Linked DNA regions of Homo sapiens: region 2 is linked to region 1. The links come from fine-mapping of genetic effects on gene expression. Tissue or cell type: whole blood. Region 1 holds a variant in brackets; the other region holds the start of a gene. All regions are shown on one strand. Distances are between the middles of the regions. Region 1 overlaps CCR3 (C-C motif chemokine receptor 3). Region 2 holds the start of CCR3 (C-C motif chemokine receptor 3).

Region 1 (4,540 bases):
AATACCTCATGAGTATATTAGCTACAAACCACCACAGCAGGTTCCAGAAAAAGGCTCAGCGTTGGAACCAGGTCACCCCCACTCAGCAGACACCAGTCATATAAATCAAGGACCAACAGGAGACAGGAACACCCCCTTCCCACTCTGCCCCATGTCTCAAGTTGTAGTGGCCCTTCCTCCAGATCTCTGCCACCATCTTAGAAAGGAACACTGAAAGAAGAAACTGAAATTATAAGCTGACAGCATAAAGAGGATGAGTAAAACCTAAAATCATTGTTCAAATGAATGAATCAAGAGAAGTTTAAACCACTTTGGACTAAAATGTGTGAATCCTTTTTCCTGCTATCCAGCAGATGAGAAGCTGGTAACAGAGACCAAAATAGTTTGGAGACTAAAGAATCATTGCACATTTCACTGCTGAGTTGTATTGTGAGTAATTTTAGTTGACCTCACTTTTGTAAATCTTGCACACGGGCATCCATATCTGCACAGAGATATGTTAACAGTGGTAAATGCTGCATGAGGAGATTGGGTGATTTTTACTTTCGTTTTTGTGCTCTTCTTTCTTATTGTTCTTACTTATTTACGATTACCCTATCGTTTTCCAAAATGTAAAAGGCCATTTTGAAAGCCTAATTCAAACCTCTTCACTATTTTGTATCTAAGTATTCACCTTGATTGAGACTGGGTAGACAGGTGAAAACCATATCAGGTTTTTAATTTTTTAATTTTTAATTATTTATTTATTTATTTATTTTTTGAGATGGAGTCTGGCTGTCGCCCAGGCTGGAGTGCAGCGGCGTGATCACAGTTCACTGCAGCCTCAACCTTCTAGGCTCAAGGGATTCTCCCACCTCAGCCCCCCAAGTAGTTGGGACCACACGTATGCGCCACCATGCCTGGCTAATTTCTTATTTTTTTGTAGAGATAGGATCTCACTATATTGTCCAGGCTGGTCTTGAATTCCTGGGCTCAGGTGAGCCTCCCACCTGGGCCTCCCAAAGTACTGGGATTACAGGCATGAGCCAAGGTCCCCTGCCCATATGAGATTTTCTGTCTCTGATCCCATGCAGCTAGTAATCAAGGACTTGGCTGCTGACTCTGGAGGACCTGCATGCTTTCTTGAGCTGTGAACTTCAGTGCTAAAAGCTCATAGGCAGCCCTGAAACCCAAACCAAAAGGTTCTATGGTTTATCATCCCGATCATGTTGATTTTATAGAAATAACACATGAATTAAAGACACTACCCTCAAACTGAGCAAAACTTAAGTAATTTTTTTAAAGTTTGACCTGTTTTTAAATCACTCTTGGAGAAAAAGGAAAATAAATACAAATAATTAACGGTGAATACAGGCTACTATACCTTTGTTCTCCAGAATTAGCAGTTCTGTTCTTTTCTTGCTTTAGATGCTGAAGTGCAGAAGGACACTCTGTGATTGTACGTGTGTAACTGACAAAATGTGTATTTTTTTTCTCAGCTGCTATGGATTGGATTATGCTATTATGAATAAGAATGCTGATGGGAGCACACACAAACCATTTGTTCCTCAGTCCATTTTCCTCCTCAAAAGCCTGGAATGTGCCATTGATCAGTGGGAGATGTACCTGGACAGACCCATGAAAAGAGATCAACAAGTTCCACCCAAGGGACCCTATTTTTCCTAATTTCATTTGAAATGGCTTCTAATTGTCCTTCTTTCATTCCTGCTTCCTACCAGTTTTACAGCTTTTTCTGGTTTCAAATGTGAACTCACATACACTCTCATTTTTCCTCATCACAACCCCAAGTGACCCAATGGTCCTCACTTTCGATATAAGTAAAGGAGGCTCTGCATTAAGGGCTTGTCCAAGGCACGCAGCTGAGAGGCGCTAGGACTGGCTCCATTTCCATCTCTATTCTCACTGACTTTGACTACCCAGAACCCCAACATGTGGGGCCTCAGTATTCGATCAATTATTCTATTAAGAAGCAAAAACAATTCCCCGCATTGGCCCCAGTTATTAAGCATTTCTCAGATTTACCTTGAGAAATGCC[C/A]ATCGGCCTGTATATTCACATCTTCACCCTTGTCCCTTCCTCCTAGAAAGGAGAAAGTCAGTTGGATGCCCTCTGAGGAACTAGTGCATGGCTTAACTGTCCTTCCATGACTCCTGCCTTATCTGTTTTCTATTTTCCTCCTTTTCCACCGAAGTCTATAATCTCAAGAAAAGCAGGCACTGGCCTTAGGGCTCCTGGCCTAAGAAATATCAAGTCCAGTGAGAAATCCCATTGACTGACCCCTCCTGCTTACCCCTTTGTGATGGAGAAGCTCCCAGGGGTTTGCTTTTTGCATGTTACCAGGCCTAACTCAGCATCACCAGGGGCAAGAAAAGGAAAGTAACCTAAACTAATGCTGCTTATAATTGTAATTATTGTAATAGTTAATTACTGTGATTGTACATGTGTAACAGACAAAATGTGTATTTTTTTCACAGCTGCTGTGGATTGGATTATGCCATTTGGAATAAGAATGCTGTTAAGAGCACACAAGCCAGGTTCCTCAAGTCCGTAGCAAATTTTTCAAAAGTTAAATTTAAAAATCACTACATTTGAATCTAGTGACAGGAGAAATGGACATGGATAGAGACTAAAGATCTAGCCCAAATTTTATATTTACTTGTTAGAGGATTTTGAACAAATTACTAAATTTCTTCAAGGTTCAATTTCCCCATTAACTATAATGAATGGCTCATCATTATGGGGCCCTGGAGAAGCATAATTACTTGTAATTGTAATAATCATTGTTATTATTATTATACATATTTTGCTTTTAAATGGATAAGGATTTTTAAGGTATATGTAAACTGTAAAACATAAAATGCAAAATGCCGTAAGAGACAGTAGTAATAATAATGATTATTATATTGTTATCATTATCTAGCCTGTTTTTTCCTGTTTTGTATTTCTTCCTTTAAATGCTTTCAGAAATCTGTATCCCCATTCTTCACCACCACCCCACAACATTTCTGCTTCTTTTCCCATGCCGGGTCATGCTAACTTTGAAAGCTTCAGCTCTTTCCTTCCTCAATCCTTTTCCTGGCACCTCTGATATGCCTTTTGAAATTCATGTTAAAGAATCCCTAGGCTGCTATCACATGTGGCATCTTTGTTGAGTACATGAATAAATCAACTGGTGTGTTTTACGAAGGATGATTATGCTTCATTGTGGGATTGTATTTTTCTTCTTCTATCACAGGGAGAAGTGAAATGACAACCTCACTAGATACAGTTGAGACCTTTGGTACCACATCCTACTATGATGACGTGGGCCTGCTCTGTGAAAAAGCTGATACCAGAGCACTGATGGCCCAGTTTGTGCCCCCGCTGTACTCCCTGGTGTTCACTGTGGGCCTCTTGGGCAATGTGGTGGTGGTGATGATCCTCATAAAATACAGGAGGCTCCGAATTATGACCAACATCTACCTGCTCAACCTGGCCATTTCGGACCTGCTCTTCCTCGTCACCCTTCCATTCTGGATCCACTATGTCAGGGGGCATAACTGGGTTTTTGGCCATGGCATGTGTAAGCTCCTCTCAGGGTTTTATCACACAGGCTTGTACAGCGAGATCTTTTTCATAATCCTGCTGACAATCGACAGGTACCTGGCCATTGTCCATGCTGTGTTTGCCCTTCGAGCCCGGACTGTCACTTTTGGTGTCATCACCAGCATCGTCACCTGGGGCCTGGCAGTGCTAGCAGCTCTTCCTGAATTTATCTTCTATGAGACTGAAGAGTTGTTTGAAGAGACTCTTTGCAGTGCTCTTTACCCAGAGGATACAGTATATAGCTGGAGGCATTTCCACACTCTGAGAATGACCATCTTCTGTCTCGTTCTCCCTCTGCTCGTTATGGCCATCTGCTACACAGGAATCATCAAAACGCTGCTGAGGTGCCCCAGTAAAAAAAAGTACAAGGCCATCCGGCTCATTTTTGTCATCATGGCGGTGTTTTTCATTTTCTGGACACCCTACAATGTGGCTATCCTTCTCTCTTCCTATCAATCCATCTTATTTGGAAATGACTGTGAGCGGAGCAAGCATCTGGACCTGGTCATGCTGGTGACAGAGGTGATCGCCTACTCCCACTGCTGCATGAACCCGGTGATCTACGCCTTTGTTGGAGAGAGGTTCCGGAAGTACCTGCGCCACTTCTTCCACAGGCACTTGCTCATGCACCTGGGCAGATACATCCCATTCCTTCCTAGTGAGAAGCTGGAAAGAACCAGCTCTGTCTCTCCATCCACAGCAGAGCCGGAACTCTCTATTGTGTTTTAGGTCAGATGCAGAAAATTGCCTAAAGAGGAAGGACCAAGGAGATGAAGCAAACACATTAAGCCTTCCACACTCACCTCTAAAACAGTCCTTCAAACTTCCAGTGCAACACTGAAGCTCTTGAAGACACTGAAATATACACACAGCAGTAGCAGTAGATGCATGTACCCTAAGGTCATTACCACAGGCCAGGGGCTGGGCAGCGTACTCATCATCAACCCTAAAAAGCAG
Region 2 (4,000 bases), 22 kb before region 1:
CACCTCACCTCTTGGTCTTGGTAGCTCTACTTCCTTTTTCCTGGAAACTCTCCCTACCCCTTCCACATGGCCAAATTCTGTTCATCCCTCGGGCCCTTTCTCTTCCATGAAGCCGTTCCCAGTCCCTTCAGCCCACATGGTCCTGTTTTCTAAACCCTGTAGAACTTGCATTTGACATCCCACATGCTGAATCAGAGCACAATATATTATACTATATTTCAGACCACCCTGAGTGGCTGCCTCTTTCTCACTGAGAGGGTCTGTCATGACAACTATGATAAGTATTTTCATGACGCTGTCCACATGCCACACACTGGCCTCCACGTAGTCCTAATTTATTTGCTCCTCACACAGATCCTACAAGCTAGGCATTGCTACATCATTTTGCAGTAGAGCACGCTGAGGCACACAGAGGTTATGTAGCTTGCCCACGGTGATATCCCTATTAAGCGGTAAAGGTAGGTTTTGCATTCAGGTGTCCAGCAGCAAAGTCTGAGATCTTACTATCAGTCGAAAATTTTGTTTTAGCCAATTTGAATATGCTATATTGAATATGCTGTAGATTAAATAGTGAAATGTTTCTTTGGTTATGCTTTAACTATATTTGAGCATTCTTGATATTTTATCAGGTCTCTGTTGTCTCTGATCACCAACAAGGTTATAGACTCTTTAAGGTGGAAACTGAGCCCCTTCCTCCCTTTCTTCTCTTTCTCTCAAATTCTCTCCCTATTCTTTCTCTCTCTCTCTAATGCACATGTGTGTGCGCTCTCTCTCTCTCTCTGTCTCTCTTATCCTCCTTCCTCTTTCTTTGTCTTTTGTTCCTATGTTTTCTTTATCATGAAGCATACAGCACAGTCCTACACACATATCAAACGTTTGATAAACACTTTGGTGCATTACACTCATTTGTCGAGTTAGTCAGTGTATCAAAGATCACTTCATGCTTAGTCAGAGTTCTTCCCACAAATATTGGGTGAATACCTGCTCTGTGCCCAGTGCCATGCTAGGTCCCAAGGGACACATCAGCACATACAGCAGGCACATGGCTCTGCCCTGTGACGCTTTGCCCTGAGACATGGCTCTGCCCTATGACGCTTATGTCACAGTGGCATTCTACCCACACTTTACATTTCCTTAGCCCTGTATATTCTGCAGAGACTTTTCACATATTTATCTTAGTTGGTTCCACGGCAATGCTATGACTTAAATATCATTATTTCCAGTTTAGAGATGAAAAAGCTGAGGTCCAGCAAGTTTAAATTACTACCCCCAGCTTATGTAGCTGTGTATGCCACAACTGAAACTCAAACTCAAGTCTTTTAGACTTGTCTAAACCTTTGCAGCCACATTTTGCCCCATCCAAGTGTCTACTGGACCCTGCAGAATAATTAGTTTATTCCTTTGCCGGGAAATTCTTATTTCATTCTTCATCCTGTCTCCCGATGAGTCAAATCAATGCTTATTCAAGAATTATAAATCCCAGGTCTTTAGGAGGCCGAGACTCGCAGATCACTTGAGGTCAGAAGTTTGAGACCAGCCTGGCCAACATGGTGAAACCCTGTCTCTACTAAAAATACAAAAATTAGCCAGGCATGGTGGCATGTGCCTCTAATACCAACTATTCCAGAGGCTGAGGCAGGAAAATCCCTTGAACCCAGGAGGTGGAGGTTGCAGTGAACTGAGATCATGCCACTGTACTCCAGCCTGGGTGACAGAATGAAATCCTGTCTTAAAAAAAAAAAAAAAATTATAACAACCCCCCACCACTAAAAATGAGCAATGCCAATGGGTGGAGAGCCCCTAAAGCAGCACTAATTGCAAGGATTTCTCAGGTGACTGGTTAGTATGTGGTGTCAATCATGAAAAAGAAGAACTGCACGAAAGTATCTTTCTGAAAACTTGCAAAACTGAGAAGCTAGTCTGTTTAAAACAGGAAGTTATATACTTACATTGTTTACTACTTTACTAATGTCTGTGATCTGATGGTATCTCTGTTTCAGGAGTGGTGACGCCTAAGCTATCACTGGACATATCAAGGACTTCACTAAATTAGCAGGTACCACTGGTCTTCTTGTGCTTATCCGGGCAAGAACTTATCGAAATACAATAGAAGTTTTTACTTAGAAGAGATTTTCAGGTAGGTGTCGCTTTTCCAGGAAAAGGGAGGTGGAACAAGGAGGGGTCCAGGCAGGTGGAAGTAGTAACTTCCAGCAGTGCTCTTGGATCTAGGAGGGAGGAGAGGAAGGTACACAGCAATTTAGAGGTAGTATGGGGCCAGAGTGGGAGAAAATATGGCCACATATCTCCATTTTCTTCTTGCTTTTTCTAATTTTCCCTTTCTGTCTCCCATCCACACAATGATAAGTTTGCGTGTAGCACTCACCCAAACTTGGCCCTTTATACCTCTTTAGTCAACATCTGTGCCCATGTTACCCTCCTATACTTTCACAAATTCTCAACTATGTGCATATGACTACTCCAAAGAGCTTACACTTAATAGCTTGTGTTTATTTATATTGACTTGTAAGAAATAGCAAAAATATAATTTTACATATATATGTGTATATATATATATATACACATATATATATATATATATATACGCACACACACATACATTTTTATATATACAAAGTCCTCCCTCAGTATCTGTGAGGGATTTGTTCCAGGACCCTTGCAGATACCAAAATTCATAGATGCTCAAGTTCCTTATATAAAATGATGTAGTATTTGCTGATAACCTACAAATATCCTCCAGTACCCTTTAAATACAAGTACCTAGATTACTTGTAATACCTAATACAACGCATACAGAGCGCTTCATTCATGTGGAGTCAACATAGCACTTGCTGCGTGGCAAATTCAAGGCTTGGTTTTTGCAACTTTGTGGAGCTTTTTCCCAGATATTTTTGATCCGTGATTGGTTGAATACACAAATGTGGAACCCATGGATACAGAGGGCTGATTATATACATATGTGTGTGTGCATTAAGTATGTATGTGTGGAAATATATATATTTATTTGAAGTTTTCATTGAAAATCCACACTAAATCAAGCTACTAGATGAGTCAGTTGATTGATTTGGTGTCTTTTTTTCTGGGTGAATGAGATTGTCTGTGTTAGAGGGTAGAGCTAGAAAGCCTTACCGATTCTTCTGGAAACGCCTGGATTGACAGAGGATGAGTGTTAACTTTGACAAGTACTTCAAGTGAGAGTGGTGGGAATAAGGGGTCTTCCACATGGATGTGGTATAAGTTGAAGTATATTTTTGAAGTGCAGCTCTTTCCAGAAAATGGTGATGATTACACTGAACCACGCAGGATGAGTTAGCTCTTCTGGGAGAAGAAATATGAGCCCTTTGTATGACTTAATAAGAAAAAAGCAGATCTGTACAGCAGAATAAATTGGGTAAAGGGCACAAAGAGATAAATCACAGGAAGGGAAATATGAATGACTAATACTTGTAGTTAAAAAAAATCAGTAATGAAATAAATGTTAATTACAACAATAATGGCAACCCTTTTGCCCATCTAATTGGCCAAGTAATTTTTTCTTTCTTTTAGATCTTCTCCATATTGATGGATGCTTGCTGAAATGGGCACCATCACCTACTAGTGCCAAGAGTATATATATTGTTACACACTTTCTGGAAGCAATTTGACAAAATGCATCAAGAGACTTCGAAATATAATTCAATGTAGAAATTGTGATTTGTGTAATATACCTTAAGGAAATAATTTTAAAATGCACACAAATATGTTTATTGCAGTATTATTTATAGCAGAGCAAATTGTGAATAACTTAATCACACAACAAAAAGGCAATGGTTAAATAAGCATGATTATCTATACAATATGTTGGAGTCATTACAAATTACATTTTTAAGTAATTTTTAGCCACAAGGAACTAGGTGAAAGGTAAAGAAGTTAAGGTATCAGAATACAAAATGATATACAAGTGTACTATCTTTCATGCGCGTCCGTGTGAAGAGACCACCAA

What was found. PIP is the estimated chance that this variant, and not a neighbour inherited with it, causes the effect.
Region 2: CCR3 starts here. The variant in region 1 is fine-mapped to the expression of CCR3 in whole blood (TOPMed, PIP 0.98).

Annotation. Positions count from the first base shown.
Region 1 is chr3:46,261,915-46,266,454 of GRCh38, forward strand. It overlaps CCR3 (C-C motif chemokine receptor 3), which reads left to right. Exons shown (of 2, transcript NM_178329.3): 2 at 3,234-4,540. The coding sequence starts at 3,245. The coding sequence ends at 4,312. Among named protein-coding and RNA genes, the nearest start is that of CCR3, 22 kb to the left of the region's middle. The variant C/A (reference allele first, on the strand shown) is at 2,036.
Region 2 is chr3:46,240,402-46,244,401 of GRCh38, forward strand. CCR3 (C-C motif chemokine receptor 3) reads left to right here and starts at 2,059. Exons shown (of 2, transcript NM_178329.3): 1 at 2,059-2,137. RefSeq lists an enhancer at 3,993-4,000.